Linked DNA regions of Homo sapiens: region 2 is linked to region 1. Evidence: fine-mapped QTL for protein levels in blood plasma. Region 1 holds a variant in brackets. A gene starts in the other region. All regions are shown on their forward strands.

Region 1 (16,510 bases):
TGGAGCCTCACTTTGCTCAGGCTGGCCTTTTTTTTTTTTTTTTTTTTTTTTTGGAGACGGAGTCTCACTCTGTCCCAGGCTGGAGTGCAGTGGCGCAATCTCTGCTCACTGTAAGCTCCGCCTCCTGGGTTCACGCCATTCTCCTGCCTCAGCCTCCTTAGTAGCTGAGACTACAGGCGCCCACCACCACGCCCGGCTAATTTGGTTTTGTATTTCTAATAGAAACGGGGTTTCACTGTGTTAGCCAGGATGGTCTCGATCTCCTGATCTCATGATCTGCCCGCCTCGGCCTCCCAAAGTGCTGGGATTACAGGCATGAGCCACCGTGTCCGGCCTGGTCTTGAACTTCTGGCCTCAAGGGATCCTCACACCTCACTCTTCCAAAGTCCTGCGATTATAGGCATCAGTTGCCACATTCAGCCTTTCTTCTAGGAAAAATTTTTAATCACTCCCAATTAAAATGCGTGGTCACAATTATATGCTTAAATAAGATGGTCTGGCACCCACATAAAAGCCTCAAGAGTATTGCATTGATCTATTTCTTAGAGCCTGTGATATCTGTCTCCCAGACTGTTCTTTCACACAGAAATTTTTTTCATTTTTGCAATATTCTGAAACTAATTTCTTCCCAGTCTCTTTCTAAAATGTATTTATTGAAATTTTGTGTTCTAAATCAATCTTGCCTGTGTTTACTTTTCATCTTATATCTGACTTCTTTTTAAATGAAATTTGGGAAAATTTTTAAATCTAATCTTCTAAGTAACCATCTATATTTCTTGTTACTCCTTTATTTTTCTTTTTGTTTTTAAAATTTGCATCAATATACTGTGTTTCCAAGGTCTTTTTACTGAGGTTCTGTTGGTAGCTCTCTTTTCATCTGCTGACTTTTCTGTTATATCAAGTAGTTCCTGCCCATCCTTTCATCCTTTTCATGGAAAGCGTAGGTGAGTCAGTATCAACAGCTGCCACTTATCATTTCAGGCTTTGAATAAGTCTCGTGCTGTCATTCAGTTTTTGTTCAGGGATAGTGATAACTTCGGGATGGCCATGTTAGAAGTAATGAGTAGGGGGATGTGACTGGAAATCCTAAAGACAAACTGCTTGATCAGTTGGATGAGGGGATCCTGTGTTGTACACATAAGAATCTGTTCCTGCCCTTCCAGAATGGTTTGAGAATAAAAGGGGATTTCAAAAAGTTTGTGGAAGAATATAATTACAATATGAAAGTAGACATTATGTAAACTTTATTTCTTAACGTAAGCTCCATCACATTCAAGAAGTTTAGCAAGTAATGATACAAGTAATTTAGCCTATCTATAAAAATTGACGATCCTGAAATTAGTTTCAGAATGCAGTCTTTTCACATCATTAACTGAAGAAAACAGAGTACACTTTAAAAATATTTCAATATTAGAAAAAAAATCTGAAGTCCAAAGATACTGCATCAGAACTGTAAGTTGGGTGCCTAGGGATTTTCTTTTTTTTTTTTTTCTTTTTTGTTTTATTTACATAGCTTGGGGAACAGGTGGTGTTTGGTTATGTGAATCAGTTCTGCAGTGGTGATTTGTGAGATTTTGGTGCACCCATCATCCGGGCAGTATACACTGCACCCAGTGTATAAGAGAGAGGTAAAAGTGACGTCTTTTACCCCTCTCCCCTTTCCCACTCTTTCCCCCTGAGTTCCCAAAGTCCATTGTGTCATTCTTATGCCTTCGCATTCTCATAGTTTAGCTCCGATTCATGAGTGAGAACATGCGATGTTGGCTTTTCCATTCCTAAGTTGCTTGACTTAGAATGATAACATCAACTTATGAGAGAGTATGGAGTAAGTTAGCCAAAACTTTAGCAGGGAAATGCCCGGAAAAGCTTTAGCAGAGAGTTCTTATCCATCACAACAATGCTCCTGCTCATTTCTCTCATGAAACAAGGGCAATTTTGCCAGACTTATGAGGGACATTCACTAGGCATCCAATCTCATCCATTTATCTGCTAAAGATTTGGCTAACTTTCTCCAAACTCCAAACTTATAAGCTGATGTCGTCATCTTTGACCCTCCAGAAAGTTAACAAACAAAATACCTCGAACATCCAAAAATACCGTTGACATGATGTTTGCTCTTGTCGCATTTATTTAGACTAGACCACTTCCACCTCTTGGTAGCCATTGCTTTGATTGTGTTTTTCCTTTAGGATGGCACTGGTAAAGCCATGTTTGATTTCCTGTTACAACTCTCCAAAGAAATGCTTTAGGATCTTTTCTTTTCTTTTCTTCTACTTCCTACTTCTTTAATTTTTCATTGAACCTTCTGTTCTTCTCTGTAGCTGACTCAGGTACAGCAGTTTTGGCCATCATCAAGTCGATAGTTTGCTCAACTTTAATTTTTCAGCCAGAAAAAAATTTATGTAATCTGAACCAATTGACAGTCTTCTTGTGCTAGCCCTTTTTTCTGCTGTTAACTGTGAGGTCTCTTCAATTGGAATAAAAGAAGATAAAATTTTTGCCCATAAGTTGCTGTGTATGGTCTGCTGCTGCAGAGTTCATCTTCACCATCATCTAGTCAATTCTTAAAAGGAGTTATCCATTTGTGAAGGGCTGATTTACTTGGGCACAAATATTTCATGATGCATCAGTGATTTCACCATCCCTCCGCCCAAGCTGCATCATAAACTTGATATTTGTTCTTGATACAATTTTAGTAGAATATTTGTTGATCTGATAGAAGTTGTTTTCAAACTGCTGTCTCAACCATGTTAGTGACTGAACTATATCCTTTTCAGACATGTTGTAACAAGTTAGTAAAAATGTATTTTGGTATGAAAAATGTTTGTATCCCTGCATAATTTTAAAAAATAATATATATTTTCCACAAACAGTTTGAAGATGCCTTATATTACTGGAAGTTGTCCTCATACAATGAAGTTTGTTGCTGATTACTCTGCCATTGGCTGGTGATCAGGCAGATTGTTGTTTTCCTCCCTCACCCCTTCTGGAATATTAGGGATGTTTGCTAAGAGGAAATATATTACCAGTTAGCAATTCTTCTTTGGCTATGCAATAATAAAACAATTGTAGCTTGGCTTTATGTGCTTTATGGGAGGCACAGAATAGTTGCCTGGCCTAGCAGGTACCCTAATGTTATTGGGATGAGTGTCACTACATTCCACACACACTAATTGGACAGGGAAACTGGAGATGAATGTTCCTGCTTAGTGACTTATGCTGGACCTTCTAAGTAGGAAAGGAAGATCAGAGGGCAGGCACAGAGGGAAGTGCCATGCAGACTTGCCTCGTTGCATAGGTTCCTGTAGAAGTGATAGTCCTGGTGAAAGAAAGGCTCCCCCTTGTCTTGGTGAATACAGGAAGACAGCAAGCATTGCCTTCAAATATCACTCAGCTCACGCCCTTTCCCTGACATTTTCCAATGTCAGCAATGAGTGAAAAAGATTAGTGTATTAGAGAAGAATAAAAATCAGCTATGAACTCTCCAGACACAAATAAAACAGAGGTGACAGAAGAGCTGAAAGAGACCCTGTCAGTGAGTGAGGATGGGGTCAAAGTGAGGAGCAGGACTGCAACAGGAGCTCAGGCACCTTTCTGTCAGTTGAAGCTCTCAACAATTTGCATCAATATACTGTGTTTCCAAGGTCTTTTGGGTTGGGAACCAACCCAAATGTCCATCAATGATAGACTGAATTAAGAACACGTGGCACATATACACCATGGAATACTGTGCAGTGATAAAAAACGATTAGTTCATGTCCTTTGTAGCGACATGGATGAAGCAGGAAACCATCATTCTGAGCAAACTATCACAAGGAAAGAAAACCAAACACCAAATGTTCTCACTCATAGGTGGGAATTGAACAATGAGAACACTTGGACACAGTGTGGGGAACATCACACACCAGGGCCTGTTGTGTGGTGGGGAGATGGGGGAGGGATAGCATTAGGAGAAATATCTAATGTAAATGATGAGTTAATGGGTGCAGCAAACCAACATGGCACAAGTATACATATGTAACAAACCTGCACATTGTGCAAATGTACCCTAGAACTTAAAGAATAATAAGAAAAAATAAAATAAAATAAAATTGACACCCTAACATCACAATTAAAAGAACTAGAGAAGCAAGAGCAAACAAATTCAAAAGCTAGCAGAAGACAAGAAATAACTAAGATCAGAGCAGAACTGAAGGAGATAGAGACATGAAAAACCCTTCAAAAAATCAATGAATCCAGTTGCTGGTTTTTTGAAAAGATTAACAAAATATATAGAGCACTAGCCAGACTAATAAAGAAGAAAAGAGAGAAGAATTAAATAGACACAATAAAAAATGATAAAGGGAATATTACCAGTGTCCCACTGATATACAAACTACCATCACAGAATACCATAAACACCTCTACACAAATAAACTAGAAAATCTAGAAGAAAAGGACAAATTCCTGGACACATTCACACTCCAGACACTAAGCCAGGAAGAAGTTGAATCGCTGAATAGACCAATAAAAAGTTCTGAAATTGAGGTAGTAATTAATAACCTACCAAGAAAAAAAGCCCAGGACCAGCTGGATTCACAGCCGAATTATACCAGAGGTACAAAGAGCTGCTGGTACCATTCCTTCTGAAAATATTCCATACAATAGAAAAAGAGGCACGCCTTCCTAACTCATTTTATGAGGCCAGCATCATCCTGACACCAAAACCTAGCAGAGACACAACAAAAAAAACAAAATTTTAGGCCAATATCCCTCATGAACATCAATGCGAAAATCCTCTATAAAATACTGGCTAACCGAATCCAGCAGCACATCAAAAACCTTATCCACCGTGATCAAGTCAGCTTCATCCCTGGGATGCAAGGCTGGTTGAACAAACAGAAATCAATAAATGTAATCCGTCAAGTAAACAGAACAAATGACAAAAAGCACATGATTATCTCAATAGATGCAGAAAAGGCCTCTGATGAAATTCAACACCCATTCATTCTAAACATAATAAACTAGGTATTGATGAAACATATCTCAAAATAATAAGACCTATTTATGAAAAACCCATAGCCAATATCATACAGAATGGGCAAAACTGGTAGCATTCCCTCTGAAAACCTGCACAAGACAAGAATGCCCTCTCTCACCACTCCTATTCAACATAGTATTGGAAGTTCTGGCCAGGGCAATTAGGAAAGAGAAAGAAATAAAGGTATTCAAATAGAAAGAGAGGAAGTCAAATTGTCTCTGTTTGCAGATGATATGATTGTATATTTAGAAAACACCATCATCTCAGCCCCAAAACTCCTTAAGCTAATAAGCAACTTCAGCAAAGTCTTAGGATACAAAATCAATGTACGAAAATCACAAGCATTCTTATACACCAATAACAGACAAACAGCCAAATCATGAGTGAACTCCCATTCACAATTGCTTCAAAGAGAATAAAATACCTAGGAATCCAACTTACAAGGGATGTGAAGGACCTCTACAAGGAGAACTACAAACCACTGCTCAAGGGAATCAGAGAGGACACAAACGAATGGAAAAACATTCCAGGCTCATGGATAGGAAGAATCAATATTGTGAAAATGGCCACAATGCTCAAAGTAATTTATAGATTCAACACTATTCCCATCAAACTACCATTGACTTTCTTCAGAGAATTAGAAAAAACTACTTTAAATTTCATATGGAACTAAAAAGAGCCCATATTGCCAAGACAATACTAAGCAAAAAGAACAAAGCTGGAGGCATCATGCAACCTGATTTCAAACTATACTACAAGGCTACAGTAACCAAAATGGCATGGTACTGGTACCAAAACAGATATATAGACCAATGGAACAGAACAGAGGCCTCAGAAATCACGCCACACATCTACAACCATCTGCTCTTTGACAAACCTGACAAAAACAAGCAATGGGGAATGGTTTCCCTATTTAATAAACGGTGTTTGGAAAACTGACTAGCCATATGCAGAAAACTGAAAATGTACCCCTTCCTTACACCTTACACAAAAATTAACTAATTGAAGAGGTCCTTCACATCCCTTGTAAGTTAGATTCCTAGGTAGTTTATTCTCTTTGAAGCAATTGTGAATGGGAGTTCATCATGATTTGGCTGTTTCTCTGTTGTTGGTATATAAGAATGCTTGTGATTTTTGCACATTGATTTTGTATCCTGAGACTTTGCTGAAGTTGCTTATCAGCTTAAGGAGATTTTGGGCTGAGACGATGGGGTTTTCTAGATATACAATAATGTCATCTGCAAACAGAGACAATTTGACTCCCTCTTTTCCTAATTGAATACACTTTCTTTCTTTCTCCTTTCTGATTGCCCTGGCCAGAACTTCCTCAACAAAATAAAAGAAGATACAAATGGAAGAAAACTCCATGCTCATGGATAGGAAGAATCAAAATCGTGAAAATGGCCATACTGCCCAAGGTAATTTACAGATTCAATGCCATCCCCATCAAGCTACCAATGACTTTCTTCACAGAATTGGAAAAAACTAATTTAAAGTTCATATGGAACCAAAAAAGAGCCTGCATTGCCAAGTCGATCCTAAGCCAAAAGAACAAAGCTAGAGGCATCAGGCTACCTGACTTCAAACTATACTACAAGGCTACAGTAACCAAAACAGCATGGTACTGGTACCAAACCAGAGATATAGACCAATGGGACAGAACAGAGCCCTCAGAAATAATACCACATGTCTACAACTATCTGATCTTTGACAAACCTGACAAAAACAAGAAATGGGGAAAGGATTCCCTATTTAACAAATGGTGCTGGGAAAACGGGCTAGCTATATGTAGAAAGCTGAAACTGGATCCCTTCCTTACACCTTTACACCTTATACAAAAATTAATTCAAGATGGATTAAAGACTTAAATGTTAAATCTAAAACCATAAAAACCCTAGAAGAAAACCTAGGCAATACCATCCAGGACATAGACATGGGCAAGGACTTCATGTCTAAAACACCAAAAGCAATGACAACAGAAGCAAAAATTGACAAATGGGATCTAATTAAACTAAAGAGATTCTGAGCAACAAAAGAAACTACCATCAGAGTGAGCAGATGCCACTCTGTAGCAACCTACAGAGGGGGAGAAAATTTTTGCAAGCTGCTCATCTGACAAAGGGCTAATATCCAGAATCTACAATGAACTCAGACAAATTTACAAGAAAAAAGCAAACAACCCCATCAACAAATGGGTGAAGGATATGAACAGACACTTCTCAAAAGAAGACATTTATGCAGCCAACAGACACAGGAAAAAATGCTCATCATCACTGGCCATCAGAGAAATGCAAATCAAAACCGCAATGAGATACTATCTCACACCAGTTAGAATGGCAATCATTAAAATGTCAGTAAAAGACAGGTGCTGGAGAGGAGGGGAGAAATAGGAACACTTTTACACTGTTGGTGAGAGTGTAAACTGGTTCAACCATTGTGGAAGACAGTGTGGTGATTCCTCAGGGATCTAGAGCTAGAAATACCATTTGACCCAGCCATCCCATTACTGGATATATACCCAAAGGATTATAAATCATGCTGCTATAAAGACACATGCATACGTATGTTTATTGCAGCACTATTCACAATAGCAAAGACCTGGAACCAACCCGAATGTCCAACAATGATAGACTGGATTAAGAAAATGTGGTGAGGCTGGAGCCAAGACGGCCAAATAGGAACAGCTCTGGTCTACAGCTCCCAGCATGAGCAACGCAGAAGATGGGTGATTTCTGCATTTCCATCTGAGGTACGTGGTTCATCTCACTAGGGAGTGCCAGACAGTGGGC[G/A]CAGGACAGTGGGTGCAGTGCACCGTGTGTGAGCTGAAGCAGGGCGAGGCATTGCCTCACTCAGGAAGCACAAGGGGTCAGGGAGTTCCCTTTCCTAGTCAAAGAAAGGGGTCACAGATGGCACCTGGAAAATCGGGTCACTCCCACCCCAATACTGCGCTTTTCCAACAGGATTAAAAAACGGTGCATCAGGAGATTATATCCTGCACCTGGCTCAGAGGGTTCTACGCCCACGGAGTCTCGATGATTGCTAGCACAGCAGTCTGAGATCAAACTGCAAAGCGGCAGAGAGGCTGGGGGAGGGGCGCCCGCCATTGCCCAGGCTTGCTTAGGTAAACAAAGCAGCCGGGAAGCTCGAACTGAGTGGAGCCCACCACAGCTCAAGGAGGCCTGCCTGCCTCTGTAGGTTCCACCTCTGGGGGCAGGGCACAGACAAAAAAAAAGACAGCAGTAACCTCTGCAGACTTAAATGTCCCTGTCTGACAGCTTTGAAGAGAGCAGTGGTTCTCCCAGCATGCAGCTGGAGATCTGAGAATGGGCAGACTGCCTCCTCAAGTGGGTCCCTGACCCCTGAACCCTGAGCAGCCTAAATGGGAGGCACCCCCTGGTAAGGGCAGACTGACACCTCACACAGCTGGGTACTCCTCTGAGACAAAACTTCCAGAGGAACGATCAGACAGCAGCATTCGCAGTTCACGAAACTCTGCTGTTCTGCAGCCACTGCAGCTGGTACCCAGGAAAACCAGGTCTGGAGTGGACCTCTAGCAAACTCCAACAGACCTGCAGCTGAGGGTCCTGTCTGTTAGAAGGAAAACTAACAAACAGAAAGGACATCCACACCAAAAACCCATCTGTACATCACCATCATCAAAGACCAAAACTAGATAAAACCACAAAGATGGGGAAAAAACAGAGCAGAAAAACTGGAAACTCTAAAAAGCAGAGTGCCTTTCCTCCTCCAAAGGAAAGCAGCTCCTCACCAGCAATAGAACAAAGCTGGACGCAGAATGACTTTGATGAGTTGAGAAAAAAAGGCTTCAGACGATCAAACTACTCCAAGCTACAGGAGGAAATTCAAACCAAAGGCAAAGAAGTTGAAAACTTTGAAAAAACTTTAGACGAATGTATAACTAGAATAACCAATACAAAGAAGTGCTTAAAGGAGCTGACGGAGCTGAAAGCCAAGGCTCAAGAACTACGTGAAGAATGCGGAAGCCTCAAGAGCTGATGCGATCAACTGGAAGAAAGGGTATCGTGATGGAAGATGAAATGAATGAAATGAAGCGAGAAGGGAACTTTAGAGAAAAAAGAATAAAAAGAAATGAACAAAGCCTCCAAGAAATATGGGACTATGTGAAAAGACCAAATCTACGTCTGATTGGTGTGCCTGAAAGTGACAGGGAGAATGGAACCAAGTTGGAAAACACTCTGCAGGATATTATCCAGGAGAACTTCCCCAATCTAGCAAGGCAGGCCAACATTCAGACTCAGGAAATACAGAGAATGCCACAAAGATACTCCTCGAGAAGAGCAACTCCAAGACACATAATTGTCAGATTCACCAAAGTTGAAATGAAGGAAAAAATGTTAAGGGCAGCCAGAGAGAAAGGTTGGGTTACCCACAAAGGGAAGCCCATCAGACTAACAGTGGATCTCCAGGCAGAAACTCTACAAGCCAGAAGAGAGTGGGGGCCAATATTCAACAATCTTAAAGAAAAGAATTTCAACCCAGAATTTCATATCCAGCCAAACTAAGCTTCATAAGTGAAACACAAATAAAATCCTCTAAAGACAAGCAAATGCTGATAGATTTTGTCACCACCAGGCCTGCCCTAAATGAGCTCCTGAAGGAAGCACTAAACATGGAAAGGAACAACCGGTACCAGCCACTGCAAAATCATGCCAAATTGTAAAGACCATCAAGGCTAGGAAGAAACTGCATCAACTAACAAGCAAAACAACCAGCTAACATCATAATGGCAGGATCAAATTCACACATAACAATATTAACTTTAAATATAAATGGACTAAATGCTCCAATTAAAAGACACAGACTGGCAAATTGGATAAAAAGTCAAGACCCATCAGTGTGCTGTATTCAGGAAACACATCTCACGTGCAGAGACACACATAGGCTCAAAATAAAAGGATGGAGGAAGATCTACCAAGCAAATGGAAAACAAAAAAAGGCAGGGATTGCAAACCTACTCTCTGATAAAACAGACTTTCAACCAACAAAGATGAAAAGAGACAAATAAGGCCATTACATAATGGTAAAGGGATCAATTCAACAAGAAGAGCTAACTATCCTGAATATATATGCACCCAATACAGGAGCACCCAGGTTCATAAAGCAAGTCCTGAGTGACCTACAAAGAGACTTAGACTCCCACACAATAATAATGGGAGACTTTAACACCCCACTGTCAACATTAGACAGATCAACAAGACAGAAAGTTAACAAGGCTACCCAGGAATTGAACTCAGCTCTGCACCAAGCGGACCTAATAGACATCTACAGAACTCTCCACCCCAAATCAACAGAATATACAGTTTTTTCAGCACCACACCACACCTATTCCAAAATTGACCACATAGTTGGAAGTAAAGCTCTCCTCAGCAAATGTAAAATATCAGAAATTATAACAAACTGTCTCTCAGACCACAGTGCAATCAAACGAGAACTCAGGATTAAGAAACTCACTCAAAACTGCTCAACTACATGGAAACTGAACAACCTGCTCCTGAATGACTACTGGGTACATAACGAAATGAAGGCAGAAATAAAGATGTTCTTTGAAACCACTGAGAACAAAGATACAACATACCAGAATCTCTGGGACACATTCAAAGCAGTGTGTAGAGGGAAATTTATAGCACTAAATGCCCACAAAAGAAAGCAGGAAAGATCTAAAATTGACACCCTAACATCACAATTAAAAGAACTAGAAAAGCAAGAGCAAACACATTCAAAAGCTAGCAGAAGGCAAGAAATAACTAAAATCAGAGCAGAACTGAAGGAAATAGAGACACAAAAACACTTCAAAAAATTAACGAATCCAATAGTTGGTTTTTTGAAAGGATCAACAAAATTGATAGACCGCTAGCAAGACTAATATAGAAGAAAACAGAGAAGAATCAAATAGACGCAATAAAAATGACAAAGGGGATATCACCACCGATCCCACAGAAATACAAACTACCATCAGAGAATACTACAAACACCTCTATGCAAATAAACTAGAAAATCTAGAAGAAATGGATAAATTCCTTGACACATACACCCTCCCAAGACTAAACCAGGAAGAAGTTGACTCTCTGAATAGACCAATAACTGGATCTGAAATTGTGGCAATAATCAATAGCTTACCAACCAAAAAGGTCCAGGACCAGGTGGATTCACAGCCGAATTCTACCAGAGGTACAAGGAGGAACTGGTACCATTCCTTCTGAAACTATTCTAATCAATAGAAAAAGAGGGACTCACTAACTCATTTTATGAGGCCAGCATCATCCTGATACCAAAGCCTGGCAGAGATGCAACCAAAAAAGAGAATTTTAGACCAATATCCTTGATGAACATTGATGCAACAATCCTCAATAAAATACTGGCAAACCAAATCCAGCAGCACATCAAAAAGCTTATCCACCATGATCAAGAGGGCTTCATCCCTGGGATACAAGGCTGGTTCAATATATGCAAATCAATAAATGTTATCCAGCATATGAACAGAACCAAAGACAAAAACCACATGATTATCTATGCAGAAAAGGCCTTTGACAAAATTCAACAACACTTCATGCTAAAAACTCGCAATAAATTAGGTATTGATGGGACATATCTCAAAATAATAAGAGCTATTTATGACAAACCCACAGCCAATATCATACTGAATGGGCAAAAACTGGAAGCATTCCCTTTGAAAACTGGCACAAGACAGGGATGCCCTCTCTCACCACTCCTATTCAACATAGTATTGGAAGTTCTGGCCAGGGCAACGAGGCAGGACAAGGAAATAAGGCATATTCAGTTAGGAAAAGAGGAAGTCAAATTGTCCCTGTTTGCAGATGACATGATTGTATATCTAGATAACCCCATTGTTTCAGCCCAAAATCTCCTTAAGCTGATAAGCAACTTCAGCAAAGTCTCAGGATACAAAATCAATGTACAAAAATCACAAGCATTCTTATACACAAATAACAGACAAACAAAGAGCCAAATCATGAGTGAACTCCCATTCGCAATTGCTTCAAAGAGAATAAAATACCTAGGAATCCAACTTACAAGGGATGTGAAGGACCTCTTCAAGGAGAACTACAAACCACTGCTCAAGGAAATAAAAGAGGATACAAACAAATGGAAGAACATTCCATGCTCATGGGTAGGAAGAATCAATATCATGAAAATGGCCATACTGCCCAAGGTAATTTCAATGCCATCCCCATCAAGCTACCAATGACTTCCTTCACAGAATTGGAAAAAACTACTTTAAAGTTCATATGGAACCAAAAAAGAGCCCTCATCGCCAAGTCAATCCTAAGCCAAAAGAACAAAGTTGGAGGCATCACGCAACCTGACTTCAAACTATACTACAAGGCTACAGTAACCAAAACAGCATGGTACTGGTACAAAAACAGAGATATAGACCAATGGAACAGAAAAGAGCCCTCAGAAATAATGCTGCATATCTACAACTATCTGATCTTTGACAAACCTGAGAAAAACAAGCAATGGGGAAAGGATTCCCTATTTAATAAATGGTGCTGGGAAAAGAGGCTAGCCATATGTAGAAAGCTGAAACTAGATCCCTTCCTTACACCTTATACAAAAATTAATTCAAGATGCATTAAAGACTTAAACATTAGACCTAAAACCACAAAAACCCTAGAAGAAAACCTAGGCATTACCATTCAGGACATAGGCATGGAGAAGGACTTCATGTCTAAAACACCAAAAGCAATGGCAACAAAAGCCAAAATTGACAAATGGGATCTAATTAAACTCAAGAGCTTCTGTACAGCAAAAGAAACTACCATCAGAGTGAACAGGCAACCTACAAAATGGGAGAAAATTTTCACAACCTACTCATCTGACAAAGGGCTAATATCCGGAATCTACAATAAACTCAAACAAATTTACAAGAAAAAAAACAAACAACCCCATCAAAAAGTGGGCGAAGGACATGAACAGACATTTCTCAAAAGAAGACATTTATGCAGCCAAAAAACACATGAAAAAATGCTCACCATCACTGGCCATCAGATAAATGCAAATCAAAACCACAATGAGATACCATCTCACACCAGTTAGAATGGCAATCATTAAAAAGTCCAGAAACAACAGGTGCTGGAGAGGATGTGGAGAAATAGGAACACTTTTACACTGTTGGTGGGACTGTAAACTAGTTCGACCCTTGTGGAAGTCAGTGTGGCGATTCCTCAGGGATCTAGAACTAGAAATACCATTTGACCCAGCCATCCCATTACAGGATATATACCCAAAGGACTATAAATCATGCTGCTATAAAGACACATGCACACGTATGTTTATTGCAGCACTATTCACAATAGCAAAGACTTGGAACCAAGCCAAATGTCCAACAACGATAGACTGGATTAAGAAAATGTGGCACATATACACCATGGAATACTATGCAGCCATAAAAAATGATGACTTCATTTCCTTTATAGGGACATGGATGAATCTGGAAACCATCATTCTCAGCAAACTATCGCAAGGACAAAAAACCAAACATCACATGTTCTCACTCATAGGTGGGAATTAAACAATGAGAACACTTGGACACAGGAAGGGGACATCACACACTGGCGTCTGTTGTTAGGGTGGGGGTAGGGGGGAGGGATAGCATTAGGAAATATATCTAATGTAAAAGACGAGTTAATGGATGCAGCACACCAACATGGCACATATATACATATGTGACAAACCTGCACATTGTGCACATGTACCCTAGAACTTAAAGTATAATAATTTAAGAAATTAACTCAAGATGGATTAAAGACTTAAATGTAAGACCAAATCCATAAAATCCCTGGAAGAATACCTAGACAATATCATTCAGGACATGGGCATGGGCAAAACTTTATGACTAAAACACCAAAAGCAATTGCAAGAAAAGCCAAAATTGACAAATGGAATCTAATTAAACTAAAGAGCTTCTGCACAGTAAAAGACACTATCATTAGAGTGAACAGGCAACCAACAGAATGGGAGAAAAATTTTGCAATCTATCCATCTGACGAAATCTAATATCCAGAATCTACAAGTAACTTAAACAAATTTACAAGAAAATAACAAACAACCATATCAAAAAGTGGGTGAAGGATATGAACAGACATATCTCAAAAAAAGACATTTATGTGTCCAACAAACATGAAAAAAAGCTCATCATCACTGATCATTACAGAAATGTAAATCAAAAACGCAATGAGATACCATCTCATGCCAGTTAGAATGGTGATTATTAAAAAGTCAGGAAACAGACTGGGCACAGTGGCTGATGCCTGTAATCCCAGCATTTTGGGAGGCCGAGGTGGGCAGATCACTTGAAGTCAGGAGTTTGAGACCAGCCTGACCCACATGGTGAAACCCTGTCTCTACTAAAAATACAACATTAGCTGGGCATGTTGGTGCATGAGTGTAATCCCAGCTACTCAGGAGACTGAGTATCACTGGAACCCGTGAGGCAGAGGTTGCAGTGAACCCAGATCCCACAATTGCACTCCAGCCTGGGCAACAAAGAACAAAACTCTGTCAAAAAAAAAATATATATATATACACAAAAATTAGCCAGTCATGGTAGTACGCACCTGTAATCCCAGCTACTCAGGAGGCCGAAGCAGGAGACTCACTTGAACCCAGGAGGCAGAGGTTGCAGTGAGCTGAGATCGGGCCACTGCACTCCAGTCTGGGTGACAGAGCCAGACTCTGTCTCCAAAACAAACAAACAAAAAAAAAGTCAGAAAACAACAGATGCTGGAGAGAATGTGGAGAAATAGGAACAGTCTTACACTGCTGGTGGGAGTGTAAATTAGTTCAACCATTGTGGAAGACTGTGTGGCAATTCCTCAAGGATCTAAAATCAGAAATATTATTTGACCCAGCAATCCCATTACTGGGTATATACCCAAATGATTATAAATCTCTCTACTATAAAGACACATGCACGCGTATATTTATTGCAGCACTATTTACAAGACCAAAGACTTGGAACCAGCGAAATGCCCATCAATGATAGACTGGATAAAAAAAATGTGGGTATTTGGCGGGGAGGAGCCAAGATGGCCGAATAGGAACAGCTCCGGTCTACAGCTCCCAGCGTGAGCGACACAGAAGACGGGTGATTTCTGCATTTCCATCTGAAGTACCGGGTTCATCTCACTAGGGAGTGCCAGACAGTGGGCGCAGGCCAGTGGGTGCGCGCACCGTGCGCGAGCCAAAGCAGGGCGAGGCATTGCCTCACCTGGGAAGCGCAAGGGGTCAGGGAGTTCCCTTTCTGAGTCAAAGAAAGGGGTGACGGACGCACCTGGAAAATCGGGTCACTCCCACCCGAATATTGCGCTTTTCAGACCAGCTTAAAAAACGGTGCACCACGAGACTATATCCCACACCTGGCTCGGAGGGTCCTACACCCACGGAATCTCACTGATTGCTAGCACAGCAGTCTGAGATCAAACTGCAAGGCGGCAGCGAGGCTGGGGGAGGGGCGCCCGCCATTGCCCAGGCTTGCTTAGGTAAACAAAGCAGCCGGGAAGCTCAAACTGGGTGGAGCCCACCACAGCTCAAGGAGGCCTGCCTGCCTCTGTAGGCTCCACCTCTGCGGGCAGGGCACAGACAAACAAAAAGACAGCAGTAACCTCTGCAGACTTAAATGTCCCTGTCTGACAGCTTTGAAGAGAGCAGTGGTTCTCCCAGCACGCAGCTGGAGATCTGAGAATGGGCAGACTGCCTCCTCAAGTGGGTCCCTGACCCCTGACCCCCGAGCAGCCTAACTGGGAGGCACCCCCCAGCAAGGGCACACTGACACCTCACACAGCAGGGTATTCCAACAGACCTGCAGCTGAGGGTCCTGTCTGTTAGAAGGAAAACTAACAAACAGAAAGGACATCCACACCAAAAACCCATCTGTACATCACCATCATCAAAGACCAAAAGTAGATAAAACCACAAAGATGGGGAAAAAACAGAACAGAAAAACTGGAAACTCTAAAATGTAGAGCGCCTCTCCTCCTCCAAAGGAAAGCAGTTCCTCACCAGCAACGGAAAAAAGCTGGATGGAGAATGATTTTGATGAGCTGAGAGAGGAAGGCTTCAGACGATCAAATTACTCTGAGCTACAGGAGGACATTCAAACCAAAGGCAAAGAAGTTGAAAACTTTGAAAAAAGTTTAGAAGAATGTATAACTAGAATAACCAATACAGAGAAGTGCTTAAAGGAGCTGATGGAGCTGAAAACCAAGGCTCGAGAACTACGTGAAGAATGCAGAAGCCTCAGGAGCCGATGCGATCAACTGTAAGAAAGGGTATCAGCAATGGAAGATGAAATGAATGAAATGAAGTGAGAAGGGAAGTTTAGAGAAAAAAGAATAAAAAGAAATGAGCAAAGCCTCCAAGAAATATGGGACTATGTGAAAAGACCAAATCTATGTCTGATTGGTGTACCTGAAAGTGACAGGGAGA
Region 2 (16,510 bases), not on the chromosome of region 1:
GGGAGGACAAAAAGGCCATGCTCAAGCTCTGCAAAACCTAAGTCCAATTATATTCCACAACATTTCCTTTAATAGCAAGGAGTGGGTTTCACGAAGTTTTCTCCATCTGCCTTGGGAAAAGTCCTCCAGAGAGCCCCACGAAAAGTGTCACCAAAGTACTGTGGCCAGGGCTGTAGAATCTTTTTCTCCCTTTCTGCGCCTATTCAATATGCACCGGAACGATTCTAGCTGCTCTTGCCGGAAGTGTGGCTAGCTTAGCGTGCAAAGACGCCGCGTTGTGACCTACGTGGGCGGAGTCAGCCGTGCAGACCTAGAACTTAGCGCCGGAAGTGTGTCTGCGTAAAACTGCGGCTCGGAGGCGGGACAGGCAGTGCTCCCGAAGCGGAAGTTTCGCGGGGAAGCTTTTGCACCTAAGGACACTTCCTGTTTCCTAGTAACAATAGGAAGTGTCCGTAGAGCTGGGAGTAGACTCCTGGCTCATGCCAGCTGCGCCCTCTTTTCTCTACCTCCTTCCTCTTCCCCCCTTCTCCTTTCCCTCTTTCCCTTCCCTCCCACCTCCCGGGAACCCTGGCTGAGTGTGCGTGTGTGGGAGCGCGAGAGCCCCCCGACAGCCACCCCTTGGGGCGCGCGGCTGCAGTTAGGGTAAGGGTCCCAGTGCGCAGGCGCGCTCTTGTTCGCGGTCCCCAACTGACGCGCCCGCGGCGGGAAGGAGAGGGGGCCGCCGGTGCGAGGTAGGCGTCCTGAGAGGAAATTGGCAGACGAGATGAGTGAGGTCAGAGGACTTCATTGGTGGTTGACTAGGGGAGGGGACTTTTGATCAAAGGGGCTTTGTGAGGTGAGAATTCCGGGGGCAGGTTCAGTGAAGGGGTTTACGGTCGGAGACAGTTGTACTGGGGTCCCATGGGAAGAAGAGTCAGAGTTGGAGAAGGACAAGACGATGTAGGGGGCATGAGAGAGCAAGGGCTTTGGGATGAAGACCGCCTCAGTCAGGGGGTTTGCTGTTACGTGAACTAGAATAACAGGCATTGCCGTGTGTTCTGAGGATTGAGTAACACAATGAATATAGTTAGCACAGTGCCTGGCACATGGTAATATAATACTCTTCATGAGTTGCTGTCATCATCAGTATTAAGAGAGGAGGCAGAAGAAAAAAATGAGAAAGACTGGTGAGGGTAAGATCAGGAGGCATGGGAGAGAAAAGGTAGGCAATGAAGTGACATTACAACCTGGTATTGATGTTATTCCCAAGATGGAAGATAGTTTGAGTTCAAGGGAAGTAGATAAAAGAAGTCGCTAAGAGAGTCTTTTGGGGTTTTTTGTTTTTTTGAGATGGAGTCTCGCTCTGTCACCCAGGCTGGAGTGCTGTGGTGGGATCTCAGCTCACTGCAACCTCCACCTCCCAGGTTCAAGCAGTTCTTCAGCCTCAGCCTCCTGAGTAGCTAGAATTACAGGTGCCCACCACCACGCCCGGCTAATTTTTGTATTTTTAGTAGAGACAGGGTTTCACCATGTTGTCCAGGCTGGTCTTGAACTCCTGAACTCAGGTGATCCACCAGCCTCGGCCTCCCAAAGTGCTGGGATTACAGGCGTGAGCCACCACACCTGGCCCAGTTAAGAGAGTCTTAACTCTCTTAACTCTCTTGTCACAAGGAAAAGAGACCTTGTGACACTGAAATGACTCGGGGTGGTGGGGGAACAAGCCAGCCCTTTCCCTGAAGGAGGCCTCTAACCTCTCCTCTCAGGTCCTCAGCTATTAACTGGAGGAAACAGCTGCTTTTTCAGTGCTTCTCAGCTACTCTGTTTAGCTGAGAGATGAAGTAGGAAGATTTGGACTTCTCTTATTGAAAGGCCTAGAGAAGGTTTTGGTGTCCTTTTAAGATGTCACAGAAAATTTTTGTTTCAGGATTGTAGGGAGCAGATTCCTACTGTTCTTAAAGGACAGTAATGCCTTTTGAGTCTGGTCTGAAGAACATAACAGGTCTGTGATCAGAAGTAGGTTGCATCTCTCTCAACTTTAATTTCCTTAGCTATACCTGTAGGGATGACTTAAGCCTAGGGGAGCTCCTATATTTGGGAAGCTTGTGCACAGGGAAGCCTTAAATGATGGTGCCTGCAGATTGGATCTAGTAGAAATTAGGTCCTTGGGCATGGATGCTTGGGGAACCTCTCAGTGACCTCAGGTGAACTTGTTGCTCGTAGAGCCAAGAGGCGAAGTTAATTCAGGCCTTCCTTTTGACCACTGCCCCCTCTTCCTAGGCCTTGGCCCCTCCACCAGAGGAAGGTGCTGCCACGTGTCTGCTCCTTCTGAACCTCCAGGTTTCTGCTACGTTGCCCCATGGAGGACACACCCCCCTCACTCAGCTGCTCCGACTGTCAGCGCCACTTTCCCAGCCTCCCAGAGCTCTCTCGGCACCGAGAACTGCTCCATCCATCTCCCAACCAGGACAGTGAGGAGGCTGACAGCATCCCTCGGCCCTACCGTTGTCAGCAGTGTGGGCGGGGCTACCGTCACCCCGGGAGCCTGGTTAACCATCGTCGGACCCACGAGACTGGCCTTTTCCCCTGTACCACCTGTGGCAAGGACTTCTCCAATCCCATGGCTCTCAAGAGCCATATGAGGACACATGCTCCTGAGGGCCGCCGCAGGCACAGGCCCCCACGCCCCAAGGAAGCCACTCCACACCTCCAGGGTGAGACGGTGTCCACTGACTCCTGGGGCCAAAGGCTTGGCTCTAGTGAAGGCTGGGAAAACCAGACAAAACATACAGAAGAGACACCTGACTGTGAATCTGTACCTGACCCCAGGGCAGCTTCGGGTACGTGGGAAGATCTGCCCACCAGACAAAGAGAAGGCTTGGCAAGCCACCCAGGTCCTGAGGATGGTGCAGACGGCTGGGGACCCTCCACTAACTCTGCCAGAGCCCCTCCTCTCCCCATCCCAGCCAGCAGCCTTCTTAGCAACTTGGAACAGTATCTGGCTGAATCAGTAGTGAACTTCACAGGGGGCCAGGAGCCCACCCAGTCCCCTCCTGCTGAGGAGGAGCGGCGGTACAAATGTAGTCAGTGTGGCAAGACCTACAAGCACGCCGGGAGCCTCACCAACCACCGCCAGAGCCACACGCTGGGCATCTACCCCTGTGCCATCTGTTTCAAGGAGTTCTCTAACCTCATGGCTCTGAAGAACCACTCTCGACTGCATGCCCAGTATCGGCCTTACCACTGTCCCCACTGCCCCCGTGTCTTCCGGCTCCCCCGGGAGCTGCTGGAACACCAGCAGTCCCATGAGGGTGAAAGGCAGGAGCCACGCTGGGAGGAGAAAGGGATGCCCACCACCAATGGGCACACAGATGAGAGCAGCCAGGACCAGCTCCCCAGTGCACAGATGCTGAATGGCTCTGCGGAGCTCAGCACCTCTGGGGAGCTGGAGGACAGTGGCCTGGAGGAATACCGGCCTTTCCGCTGTGGGGACTGTGGCCGTACTTACCGCCATGCTGGGAGCCTCATCAACCATCGAAAGAGCCACCAGACAGGTGTCTACCCCTGCTCACTCTGTTCTAAGCAGCTGTTCAATGCGGCTGCCCTCAAAAACCATGTGCGGGCTCATCACAGGCCCAGGCAAGGAGTTGGGGAAAATGGGCAGCCATCAGTCCCACCAGCTCCCCTGCTGCTGGCTGAGACCACCCACAAAGAGGAAGAGGACCCCACCACCACCCTGGACCATCGGCCCTATAAGTGCAGTGAGTGTGGTCGTGCTTACCGCCACCGGGGGAGCCTGGTGAACCATCGCCACAGCCATCGGACTGGAGAGTACCAGTGCTCACTCTGTCCCCGCAAGTACCCCAATCTCATGGCCCTGCGCAACCACGTGCGGGTACATTGCAAGGCTGCTCGCCGAAGTGCAGACATCGGGGCTGAGGGTGCCCCCAGCCACCTCAAGGTAGAACTCCCGCCTGACCCAGTGGAGGCAGAGGCAGCCCCGCACACAGATCAGGACCATGTGTGCAAACATGAAGAAGAGGCCACGGACATCACCCCAGCAGCAGACAAGACAGCAGCACATATCTGTAGCATCTGTGGGCTGCTCTTTGAAGACGCTGAGAGCCTTGAACGTCATGGCCTGACTCATGGGGCAGGGGAAAAGGAAAATAGCAGAACAGAGACCACAATGTCACCTCCTAGGGCCTTTGCCTGCCGAGACTGTGGAAAGAGCTATCGCCACTCAGGCAGCCTTATCAACCACAGGCAGACCCACCAGACAGGAGACTTCAGTTGTGGGGCCTGTGCCAAGCACTTCCACACCATGGCTGCCATGAAGAACCACTTGCGCCGGCACAGTCGGCGGCGGAGCAGGCGGCATCGGAAGCGGGCTGGCGGTGCCAGCGGTGGGAGAGAAGCCAAACTCCTGGCAGCGGAGAGCTGGACCCGGGAGCTAGAAGACAATGAAGGCCTGGAGTCTCCCCAAGACCCTTCAGGGGAAAGTCCTCATGGGGCTGAAGGCAACCTGGAAAGTGATGGGGACTGTTTGCAGGCTGAATCTGAAGGGGACAAATGTGGGCTTGAGAGGGATGAGACCCATTTCCAGGGTGATAAAGAGAGCGGAGGCACTGGGGAAGGACTGGAAAGGAAGGATGCCAGTTTACTTGACAACTTGGACATCCCAGGTGAGGAAGGTGGTGGCACTCACTTCTGCGATAGCCTCACTGGGGTGGATGAAGACCAGAAGCCAGCCACTGGCCAACCCAACTCCTCTTCCCACTCTGCCAATGCTGTCACTGGCTGGCAGGCTGGGGCCGCTCACACATGCTCTGACTGTGGGCATTCTTTCCCCCATGCCACTGGCCTGCTGAGCCACAGGCCCTGCCACCCACCAGGCATCTATCAGTGCTCCCTCTGCCCGAAGGAGTTTGACTCTCTGCCTGCCCTCCGCAGCCACTTCCAGAACCATAGGCCTGGGGAGGCGACCTCAGCACAGCCTTTCCTCTGCTGCCTCTGTGGCATGATCTTCCCTGGGCGGGCTGGCTACAGGCTTCACCGGCGCCAGGCCCACAGCTCCTCTGGCATGACTGAGGGCTCAGAGGAGGAGGGGGAAGAGGAAGGAGTGGCAGAGGCAGCCCCTGCACGCAGTCCACCACTGCAGCTCTCGGAAGCAGAGCTGCTGAATCAGCTGCAGCGGGAGGTGGAAGCGCTGGACAGTGCAGGGTATGGGCACATCTGTGGCTGCTGTGGTCAGACCTACGATGACCTGGGGAGCCTGGAGCGTCACCACCAAAGTCAGAGTTCTGGGACTACTGCAGACAAGGCTCCCAGCCCCTTGGGAGTGGCAGGTGATGCCATGGAGATGGTCGTGGACAGTGTCTTGGAGGACATAGTGAATTCTGTCTCTGGAGAGGGTGGAGATGCCAAGTCTCAAGAGGGAGCAGGCACCCCCTTGGGAGACAGCCTCTGCATCCAGGGTGGGGAAAGTTTGTTGGAGGCTCAGCCCCGCCCCTTCCGCTGCAACCAGTGTGGCAAGACCTATCGCCATGGGGGCAGCCTGGTGAACCACCGCAAGATCCACCAGACTGGAGACTTTCTCTGCCCTGTCTGCTCCCGCTGCTACCCCAACCTGGCTGCCTACCGTAATCATCTGCGGAACCACCCTCGCTGCAAAGGCTCTGAGCCCCAGGTTGGGCCCATCCCAGAGGCAGCAGGTAGCAGTGAGCTGCAGGTTGGGCCCATCCCAGAAGGAGGCAGCAACAAGCCCCAGCACATGGCAGAGGAGGGGCCGGGGCAAGCAGAAGTCGAGAAGCTCCAGGAAGAACTTAAAGTGGAGCCCCTGGAGGAAGTGGCCAGGGTGAAAGAAGAGGTGTGGGAGGAGACCACTGTGAAGGGGGAGGAGATAGAGCCCAGGCTGGAGACTGCCGAGAAGGGCTGCCAGACTGAAGCCAGCTCTGAGCGGCCCTTCAGCTGCGAGGTGTGTGGCCGATCCTACAAGCACGCCGGCAGCCTCATCAACCACCGGCAGAGCCACCAGACCGGCCACTTTGGCTGTCAGGCCTGCTCCAAGGGCTTCTCAAACCTCATGTCCCTCAAGAACCACCGGCGCATCCATGCAGATCCCCGACGTTTCCGCTGCAGCGAGTGTGGGAAGGCCTTCCGCCTGCGGAAACAGCTGGCCAGCCACCAGCGGGTCCACATGGAACGGCGTGGGGGTGGGGGCACCCGAAAGGCGACTCGGGAAGATCGGCCCTTCCGCTGTGGGCAGTGCGGGCGGACCTATCGCCACGCCGGCAGCCTCCTGAACCACCGGCGCAGCCACGAGACGGGCCAGTACAGCTGCCCCACCTGCCCCAAGACCTACTCCAACCGCATGGCCCTGAAGGACCACCAGAGGCTGCACTCAGAGAATCGGCGGCGACGGGCTGGACGGTCCAGGCGCACAGCTGTGCGTTGCGCCCTCTGTGGCCGCAGCTTCCCTGGCCGGGGATCTTTGGAGCGGCACCTGCGGGAGCATGAGGAGACAGAAAGGGAGCCAGCCAATGGCCAGGGAGGCCTGGATGGCACAGCGGCCAGTGAGGCGAACCTGACTGGCAGCCAGGGACTAGAGACCCAATTGGGTGGTGCTGAGCCAGTACCCCACTTGGAGGATGGAGTCCCAAGGCCAGGGGAGCGCAGTCAGAGCCCCATCAGGGCAGCAAGCTCAGAAGCCCCAGAGCCACTGTCCTGGGGTGCAGGGAAGGCAGGTGGGTGGCCGGTAGGTGGGGGACTGGGGAATCATAGTGGAGGCTGGGTTCCTCAGTTCCTAACTAGGTCAGAGGAGCCAGAGGACAGTGTCCACAGGAGTCCTTGCCACGCTGGTGACTGCCAGCTCAATGGACCTACTCTGAGTCACATGGATAGCTGGGACAACAGAGACAACAGCTCTCAGCTGCAGCCAGGGAGCCACTCCTCTTGCAGCCAGTGTGGCAAGACTTACTGCCAGTCAGGCAGCCTCTTGAACCACAACACCAACAAGACAGACCGACACTATTGCCTGCTCTGCTCCAAGGAGTTCTTAAATCCTGTGGCCACAAAGAGCCACAGCCACAACCACATAGACGCCCAGACCTTTGCCTGTCCTGACTGTGGCAAAGCCTTTGAGTCCCACCAGGAACTGGCCAGCCACCTGCAGGCTCATGCCCGGGGCCACAGCCAGGTGCCAGCCCAGATGGAGGAGGCCAGAGATCCCAAAGCCGGGACTGGGGAGGACCAGGTGGTTCTCCCTGGTCAAGGGAAAGCCCAGGAGGCCCCATCAGAAACCCCCAGAGGCCCAGGAGAGAGTGTGGAGAGAGCCAGGGGAGGACAAGCGGTGACGTCCATGGCGGCTGAGGACAAGGAGCGGCCCTTCCGCTGCACCCAGTGCGGGCGCTCCTACCGCCATGCTGGCAGCCTGCTGAACCACCAGAAGGCCCACACCACAGGGTTGTACCCGTGCTCCCTCTGTCCCAAACTTCTCCCTAACCTGCTGTCTCTTAAGAACCACAGCAGGACCCACACGGACCCCAAGCGCCACTGCTGCAGCATCTGTGGCAAGGCCTTTCGGACAGCTGCCCGGCTGGAGGGCCACGGGCGGGTCCATGCACCCCGGGAGGGGCCTTTCACCTGCCCCCATTGTCCCCGCCACTTCCGCCGCCGAATCAGCTTCGTGCAGCACCAGCAGCAGCACCAGGAGGAGTGGACGGTGGCCGGCTCCGGTAGGGGGCATGAAGGGTCCCAGGAGGAGGTGGGCACACAGTGGAGGGGGAAGTCCAGCCCCAAAGTCGGTGGGGGAGCAAGGAGTGAGAGGAGAGAGCCCCGGGGATTCTAAGAGGTGGGTGGGGGCTTGGCTATGGGGTGAGAGAAGTAGCTTGAGGATGTGCTGAGCTGAGCACCCGCAAGTCAGGTATAACAAATAGCAGGGTGGGTTGGGCAGCACGTGGGGGCGTGGTCAGGCCGAGGCTGCTACCTGGGCTCCTCCATTACACTGTAGCCAGAATGGAATGGTCTTTCTGTTCAGGGGAAGGTCACTGGGTACCCCCTGGCTGCTGTGTCTGGAAACCCTCCTGAGTCAGCCAGTAAAGTAATGACTTCCAGAGAAAAAGAGGAAGCCATTGGTTTGGTCTAGGTTCCATTCTTTCCTGGAGCAGGCCGGGTGCCAGGGAACAAGGGATGGGGCATGGGCTCCACGGCTTCCCTGCTGACTTGGCCACGGAAACTGGTTCACTGGTTGGCACCCTACTCCCTGTCCCTCTTTCCCTGCGCCTTGTCTCTGCTGCTCCTCTCCTTGGAAACTAGACCTCTGGTCCTTCCCTGTCAGTGTTGCTCCCATCTCTTCTCTAACCTTTATTCAGCCCCTTTTCCCTCTGCTGCCAACGGCCTTTTTAGGATCCAACCAAACCACCCTTTCTACCTGCGCACCCTGCCACCCTCTGCACACCTTTAACTGGAGGACTGAGTCACAGATAATTGTTTCCTTGAAGTCCAGGCCCAGCTGCAGCAACAACAGTCATTAGCCCGTGTCACATCCCTGATCAGAGGGCATCTCCGTGGGGAATCGCCTCCACCCAGCACTGCTGGAAGCCGCAGCTGCCAGGGAGTGGGGCGGCCGGTTCCCTCAGCAGGACCTGGGCTGGCCTCTCCACCTCCCCTAGTAGAGGCGGACCCATTCCATCTAGTGGCCACCGAGGGTGGGTGGCCCTGAGATGGTGGGCCCTTGACAGGCCTTGTCAGAGCAGAGGGCAGGTGGGAGTCACCTGAAAGCTGAAGGAATGGCTTTAAGGATAGAAGATTTCTCATGACCTCAAGGGATATGAGGGAGGAGCCAGTTTGCCAGGGCTGGGAAAATAATTAGGAGGCCTAGAATCCCTGTTCTCATCTGGGCCTCCGGGGCCAGGGGCAGGGGAATGGCCTGCAGGGCTGGGAGGGGGTACACGCTGTGCGGGGTCTGCCCCTCAGTTGGTGACCTCCTCTCTCTCTCCCCCCAGGAGCCCCAGTGGCACCAGTGACGGGCAGAGGGGACTTGCCATTGCCCCCTCCACCCACCCCCACGACCCCACTCCTGGATCCTTCACCCCAGTGGCCTGCAGACCTCAGCTTCTCCCTCTGAACTTCAAGTCTCCAAAGATCAGAATCTGGGGGAGGGAGCGCGTGCAGGGAGGGGCTTGATCTCCACATTTTCTCAGGAGTAGTTCGGGCATCCCCATATCTTCTCCTCTCCCCTTGTGAAGAGGACCCAGATCTGGCTTCTTTCCCAAGGAGGGGGTGGGGTGTTCCTCGCGTCCCTGTCCTTGAAGGACCTCCTTCCCCCAGCCTCATCACCGTGCTCTTCTCAGCGCCACCCTCAGCAGCCAGATTGCAACACCAGGGAGAGGCGGATGCAGAGCCCCACCGGTGGGAAAGTTGCCTGTGGAAGGGAGCCTTTTGCTACAATTTGTAACTTATTTTCTAAAGTCTATTTTGTAACAATTTATTTAAGTTTAAAAAAAGGAAAACTGCTGCCCCCCAAAAAAAGAAATTTTCAAAACAACGTGGCTGGCGTGATTGTATCTGAAAGGGTAAAGGAGGAGGAAAGCTGAGACGCCTGCTTGGTAGCAGAGTTGGGTGTGGGAGTGTCCACAGACACCCCTGTCCTGCAGGGTGGGGAGTGGGCACCTGTGGCCCCAGGCAGGTTCCTTCCCACAGCTGCTGGGCTTCTGGGCCTGCCCTGGTGCCTGGAATCACACATGACAGGGTGGGGAGGACAGGGGCAGTAATGCCATTTGCCTGCCTGCATTCTCTTGTCCTGAGAATGGCCAGGTCCCCTGTCAGCAGCTGGTTGGTTGGCCTGTGGGGAAGGAAGGAGGGTGGAGTTGTCCTCATCCTCACGGCTTTGGTCCCTCCCTCCCTCCCCATTCCTCGAAGGAACAGGGTCTGTCTTGGCCGCCATGACAGATGAGAATACTGAGGCTCAAAGCGGTTGAGCAGCCTGCTCCAAGTCACACGATGACAAAGAACCAGAATCTGAATCAAATGGGTCTGCCTGTTGCTCCACCCTACCCAAGGCAGCTGGAGTGGGTTAGAACGGCACGTTCTCACTGGAGAGAGAAGGGTCCTGGAGAGGCAGGGTTTGGCAGGAGGCCCCGGGGCCACATACTTATGTTGGCCAGGCAGCTTCCAGGCTCAGCCTCGGGCTCTGGTTCCTCGGCGAAGTAGACCTGCCAGTCCAAACTGCTGACCCAGTCCTCATAGGCAGGGAGCGCGGTGAAGACCGCCGGCCTGGCGGGGCCTTGGCAAGCATCTCCGAAGCTGTGCAGCCCGGCCAGGAACCATGTGCCCCTCACCTCATGCACCAGTGGTGCCCCAGACAGGCCCTGTCAGGGGTCAGGTGACACTGGGTGACTTTTTATAGGCAGCTGTGCAGGACGGTAGAGCAGGCTAGGGAACCTCTGGCTGTTTGGGGGCTAATTGGCAAAAAGGCTTAGTTTCAGGTGGGAGGTGGGTCCAGAGGCCAAGCCTGGAAGGTCCGTTCTTGAGCTATTGGGTGAGGGGATGCCAGGGGCCTGTTAGGTAAGGTGTGGGGGCCTGGGGCTCACCTCACAGCTGGGCAGCTCACCCACAGCACTGGTACACACCATCCCCGGCAGAATAGGGCTGCCATCACCCCCAGGAGCTGCATGCAGCCGGCTGCAGGCCCTAGGCCCCAGGAGGGTCACGGGCACTGTCTGGAGGGAGCTGATGCCTGTGGAGCAAGGGAAAGCTGGCTGCCCCGGCCTGCAGGTTGGATGGACAGCAGCCCTGGCCCTGTGCCCACCTACCTGCTCCTGGGCGGGCCCGTCCCAGAACCCAGCCACGCTCCCCATCAGGCAGGTGGTGGTCAGGATAGGGCAGGCAGAGGGGCCGCAGGCTGGCTCCCAGTGTCACAGGCTGGGCCAGCAGCAGGAGGGCCATGTCGTAGCCCCCCTCAGGGTGGGTGTAGGCTCCATGCAGGATGAGCTGCTTCAGGCCCCACTCCTCCGGTCTGGTCCCCAGCCCTACGCTCCATTCCTCTGGGGCCTGGCGCCTGTGCAGAGGCAGTGTGGACGGCACCAGGTGACAGGGCTGCCGGCAGGGGCAGGGGGCACAGCAGAGAGGGATCCAAGACTCACCCAATGAAGCAGTGGGCAGCAGTTAGCACCGCCTCCTCTGACACCAGGGCTCCGCCACAGGCCAGCTGTCCCTGGTGCATCAGCCTGGCCTCCCAGGGCCATGGGGAGGGTGCTCCTGCCTGGGGACCTGCTGTCCTCAAGGATCCACAGGCTGAAACAGATAAGTGCCTCATCTGACTTCTTGCTAAGCACTTCCCACTTCCCATCAAATCCTCACAGTAGCTTTTGAAATTGAATTTTGTTCCCCTCATTACTGAAGGTAACCAAAGTTCCAGAGAGGTTAAGAGACTTCCTTGCTCTGTAACTACAGGCAAGTGGCAGACTTGCGATTCGCAAGCCAGGGCCTGAGCTTTTAGCCCTGTTGGTCTGATGGGACCCCTGTCCCAGCCTCGTGGGAATGCCCCTACTTGTCACTCCCCTGCTCCACCCGTCTGCACCCTCCAGGATGGGCCTGCCTCCCGTATTCCTGACTCATTAGTGCATCTCTTATCATCAAGACATAATATCCGTCCCAGGAATTACTTTGCATTCAATTTGCATGCCAGTCACTTAATGCCGGAATTCTGACTGGGAGCCCTACCCTGTGCAGGCTCGCTGGGTCCCTGCTGGAAGCCTGCCACTTCCCCAGAAACCCAAGTCAGGTCTCAGAGATTCCTCTTCTCACCTAAACTCCAAACCTGTAGAGTTCCAAAGTGCCTGTGCCTCTCAGCCCTAACAGGGCTGTTCCCATCCCAGGGGGTGAAAGAGCCCCCTAATTAGGCTCGGCGGTGTGGATGCCTATGCCAGTTCTCTAGTCCTAACTGAGGTTTGCTTCACAGTGGCTTCTGCCCACTCCCAGCATGCCCCACTCGTACCTACACAGCTGTCCTCATCACTCATCTCCGGGGTCTCTGGGCTCTGGGCCAGGAAAGCTGCCCCCTGAACTCGAGCCTGCAGCCAGGAACTGTGAGCAGCTGTGTTGGTCAGCAGCACAGGAGCGTCCTCCTGGGCACAGCTTGATGCAAAGCTGATGATGCCAGCCTGAACCCAGTGTCCGTCAGGCTCGAGGCACAGCACAGGGCCCCCGGAATCTCCCTGGAGCCAGGCAACAAAGCCAAGGACAGATGCCTGAGCCCAGCTATGGCAGACACCCTCTGATTGCAGGTCTTTCCCCCAGTCCTGTGAGTCCAACCCCCAGCCCAGGGTTAGGCCCCTCCCCTTCTGCTCCTTCTCTTCTCCCTATCAGACCTGACAGGGGCCCTGCACCCCAGGCTGGGGGCCCCCACATAGCATCCCAGGCCGGGCCGGGTTGGACAGGTGTCGCTGGTGCAGCTGGTTGTAGATACAGTTACATGTGGGGCGACTGATGAGACGCAGGCGCAGATTGCGTAGGGTCCCAGGAGCTGGTGAAAGAGACGGGGCTGGGGCTAGAGTCTGGGATCTGGGAAGCAAGGGAGACTGGAAGCCAGGACAGTTGGGAGCTGAGACTGTGACGCTGGGCAAGCAGAGTGCCTCTCCGAGCTTCAGTCTGGGCCAGCACTTACCATCACTGGTGTCCTGATCCCAGCCAGTGGCCCAGCAGGAGGCTCCAAAGGGGAAGCGATGGGCGGGCTGGGGCAGGCAGAGGGGTGTGTGGGTCGTGGGGTGGGCGAGCTGCAGCAGGGCCAGGTCTGAGCCCTGGCTGTAGTGGTTATAGGCCCTGGGCAACTGCAGGGCAGCCACCCCCACCTCTTCGGCCCCAGGGCTGAGTCCCTCACGCTGCAGAGAACCCAGGACCACTGACCAGGAATTCAGTTCTGTTGCTGCTGCCCTGGAAGGGGAAGGACAAGGTCCAGGCTGCTGAGTGCAAGGGTAGACAGTGACACCATGGGAGACCCCACAGGTAGGTGGAAGATAGCAGAGAGCACTCCACGGCTTTTTCTTTTTGAGGTAGGGTCTCGTCCTGTCGCCCAGGCTGCAGTGCAGTGGCATGACCATGACTCACTACAAGCCTTGACCTCCCAGGCTCAAGCGATCCTCCCACCTCAGCCTCGTGAGTAGCTGGGACTACAGGCGTGCACCACCATGCCTGGCTAATTTTACAGTTTTTGTAGAGACATGGTCTTGCTATGTTGCACAGGCTAGTCTTGAACTCTTGGGCTCAAGCGATCCTCCCTCCGTGGCCTCCCAAAGGGCTGGGATTACAAGCGTGAGCTACTGTGCCCGGCCTCAGTCTGTGACTTTAAGCGAGGTCATTCCCTTGCAACCTGAGTTTTCTGATTTGTAAATCTTCTACCATGAAAGGTGGTTGTTACAATTAACTTGACAATATGTACCCAGTACATGGCAGATTCTCAGTAAATGGTTCTTTATTATTACTCTAGAGGCAGGGACTAGCCTTGTGGGGCTTGAGACAAATTGTCCACTCCCCAGAGCCGGAGACCCTGCCTGACCCCAGCCATGACTTACTTTTCAAAGCAGTGGGCAGCAGTGAGGACCCAGGTGTCTGCCACCAGGGAGCCGCTGCAGATGTGGGCTCCTTGCCTCCTCACACTGGCCTGCCAGGGCCACTCGCCAGGGACTGTGTTGCCCTCCTGAGGCTTGGGGGGGCCGGGGCCACGCTGTCCACAGGCTGTGGAAAGGAGTTAGTCACACTGACAGCAGATACCTGTCCTGACCTCACCCCAGTCCCAACCCAGACCCAAGTAAGACCTAGGCCCCGTGTCCCCAGACCTTACCACGCTGAGCGGCTTGAAGACCTGGGAAGAGAGAGACACAGGTAAGATGCAGGGACTCCAGGCCTGCCTAGCTTTGGGGAGGAGAGGGGATGGGCTGGGGGGCGGGCCCAGGGTCCTTGCCTGTGACTCTGATTACCTTACCAGCCCCTCCCAGAATGAAAATATTTATATGAGGCCGAGACAGCTTTTATTGGAACCTATTCAGTGTGCACACTCAGTAATTAATTCTCCTTCAGCTGTGCTCAGCACTCTGGGGCTTGGGGTTCAGCTTGGGAGTAGGCCAGCCCTCCTCCAGGCTTCAGAACCCCCAACTCCTGCCCCCGCCACTGAGTCAGCCAGGCGGCCTGTGTGTGTAGAGAGCATTAGCTTAATTGTCCTCTTAGCAGCAGAGGCCTAAGAGGAAGGATTAGAGGCCTGCATCATTTCCAAGTGGGGAGGGCCCCAAGAAATGGAGACTTACCTCACCCTGGTCTAGAGACTCAGTCTTCCCCACCTTCCCAGAAACTGTCTGAGAGCCCGCCAGAGAGAGGGCCCCTGCCCACCGCCCCTCACAGGCACACAGGCACCCCATGAGACAGCTGAGCCAGGCTGCCCAGAGGATGGATGAAAAGAAAGGGAAACTGAGGCCAGAGGAGCCCAGAGTTTGCCTGACGTCATTGTGGAAGTCGAGGGGGAGGCAGGCACAGGACACACGCAGGCAGCACCTCACACACACACAAGACCACAGGCCCCGCCAACGCAAACTGCAGCTGGCCCGAGAAAATCTCATCCATGTTGACACAGGTGGCCACATATACCACCCCACAGAGTCCTACGGAGTTACATCCCCACTGGTGGACTGTCGCCCACAGGCGGTCCCCCCACCAAGAAGCAGGGACTGCTGGGGCAGAGATGGCCCCTGAGCCCCCACCAGGCCACACCCATACCCCAGCACATGGCGGCTTACCCTCCATGAGGACTGTGGCACCCGCGATGAGCAGCACTGGGCCCCAGCACCACTTCATGCTGCCCCGGGCCACTCTGCCACCTGTGCTCCACTCTGAGAGAGGCCACCTGGGTCTCCCTGGCTCCACCTCTGCTCCACCTCCAGTTGGCTAGGATTCAGCTGTCTGCTTGCCCTAGCCAGCAGTTCCTAGCTCTGGGGCTGTGGCTGTGTGACCCTAGGCTTGTCACCACCCCTCTCTGGGCCTTAGCCGTGGAGCCAAATTGTCTGGGTTTAAATCTGTTTCCTTACTACTTGAGTGGCCTGGGAGAGCTAACCTGCCTGTGCCTTGTCTGAGAAACAGTTGTTGAATGGAAAACGTCTCAATGACAGCCTGGCACAGGGCAAGCTCACTCCCAGCATGAAAGTGCCATCCTGGAACCATGGAGGGCACGTGGGCAGCTCCTCCCAGTCCCCACTTTTCATTTCCACTCCCCCACTTCTCTTCCAGCCAGGGCTAGGTGGGTTTCACATGCCTTCTCCCAGGTCTGCTCAGAGACAGTGTGTGCCAGGCTGAGTGGTGAGGAGCCAGCACCCACTGCTGCTTGCTCGCTGTGAGCCTTTGGCAAATCCCAGTATCTCCCTGGGCCTGCTGGCTTCCTGGGAAACAGGGTGACAGCGGTGCCCACCTTCCTCATAGGCGCAGAGGACTCGGTCAGGCGGGAAGAACACTTTGGCGCGTGCCTCCTCTTCCTCTTCCCACTCCTAACTCAGGCTGGCCCAGACCATTCAAGAACCCTGACCCCAAGACAGAGGCAGCTGTGGGTAAGGTTTAGCATATATTATAGATGCTGGCCGGGCATGGTGGCTCACGCCTGTAATCCCAGCACTTTGGGAGGCCAAAGCAGGCAGATCACCTGAGGTCGGGAGTGCGAGACCAGCCTGACCAACATAGAGAAACACTGTCTCTACTAAAAATACAAAATTAGCCAGGCCTGGTGGCGCATGCCTGTAATCCCAGCTACTCGGGAGGCTGAGGCAGGAGAATCACTTGAACCTGGGAGGTGGAGGTTGTGGTGAGCCGAAATTGTGCCATTGCACTCCAGCCTGGACAACAAGAGCGAAAGTCCGTCTCAAAAACAAACCAACAAAAAAAAAAGCATATAGATGCTGGAGCCAGATGGACCAGGTGGATTCAAATCCTGAGAGCCTCCTGCAGTAGCTGTGTGATCTCAGGCATACTAATTAGCCACTCTGTCCCTATCATCAAGATAGGGATAATAATAGTACCCACCTCATAAATCACTGTAAAGATTAAACGAGTTTAACACGTTAACACAAGTTTTTTTTTGTTTTTTGTTTTTTTTTGGAGACGGTCTTGCTCTGTTGCTCAGGCTGGAGTGCAGTGATCATGGCTCACTGCAGCCTCAACCTTCTGGGCTCAAGCAGTCTTCCCGCCAGCTTCCCGATTAGTTGGGACTATAGGTACATACACCACCATGCCTGGCTAATTTTTTTTTTTTTTTTTTTTTGTAGAGACAGGGGTCTCACTATTTTGCCCAGGCTGGTCTGGAACTCCTGGCCTCAAGTGATCCTCCTGCCTTGGCCTCCCAAAGTACAGGGATTACAGGTGTGAGCCACTGCACCCTGCCAACACAAGTTCTTAAACAGTGCTTGGCATGTAGGTAAGTGGTCAGGGCATAATAGGCAAAACAAAAACCTTCACAACCTGGCCCTGACCCTCCAAGGCTACCAATACTGGCTTGGAATGG

Which allele goes with the higher level. Alleles are on the strand shown, and positions count from the first base shown. The strength of an association depends on the size of the effect and on how common the allele is.
For the plasma level of the protein whose gene starts at base 14,954 in region 2, allele G in region 1 goes with a lower level than allele A (strong association).

Evidence for each region. PIP is the posterior inclusion probability: the model's chance that the variant is causal. The UK Biobank Pharma Proteomics Project read protein levels with antibody pairs (Olink). The fine-mapping took linkage between variants from a reference panel, not from the people measured, so its PIPs are less certain.
Region 2: it holds the start of PRSS53, and the variant in region 1 is fine-mapped to the plasma level of the PRSS53 protein (UK Biobank, PIP above 0.99).

What each region holds. Positions count from the first base shown.
Region 1 is chr12:11,282,560-11,299,069 of GRCh38, forward strand. It overlaps LOC107987435 (a long non-coding RNA gene), which reads left to right. Exons shown (of 2, transcript XR_007063209.1): 2 at 1-3,076. Among named protein-coding and RNA genes, the nearest start is that of PRB4, 20 kb to the right of the region's middle. RefSeq lists enhancers at 7,672-8,173, 8,174-8,673, 15,315-15,910. The variant G/A (reference allele first, on the strand shown) is at 7,810.
Region 2 is chr16:31,073,990-31,090,499 of GRCh38, forward strand. It overlaps PRSS53 (serine protease 53), which reads right to left and starts at 14,954. Exons shown (of 11, transcript NM_001039503.3): 1 at 14,763-14,954; 2 at 13,817-13,837; 3 at 13,548-13,710; 4 at 12,644-12,909; 5 at 12,348-12,502; 6 at 11,975-12,194; 7 at 11,121-11,271; 8 at 10,791-11,035; 9 at 10,569-10,714; 10 at 10,130-10,346; 11 at 9,448-9,820. The coding sequence starts at 14,820. The coding sequence ends at 9,801. ZNF646 (zinc finger protein 646) reads left to right here and starts at 433. Exons shown (of 3, transcript NM_014699.4): 1 at 433-642; 2 at 2,257-7,712; 3 at 8,982-10,207. The coding sequence starts at 2,336. The coding sequence ends at 9,103. ZNF668 (zinc finger protein 668) reads right to left here and starts at 251. Exons shown (of 3, transcript NM_024706.5): 1 at 1-251. RefSeq lists enhancers at 133-666, 172-311, 667-1,199, 14,631-15,131.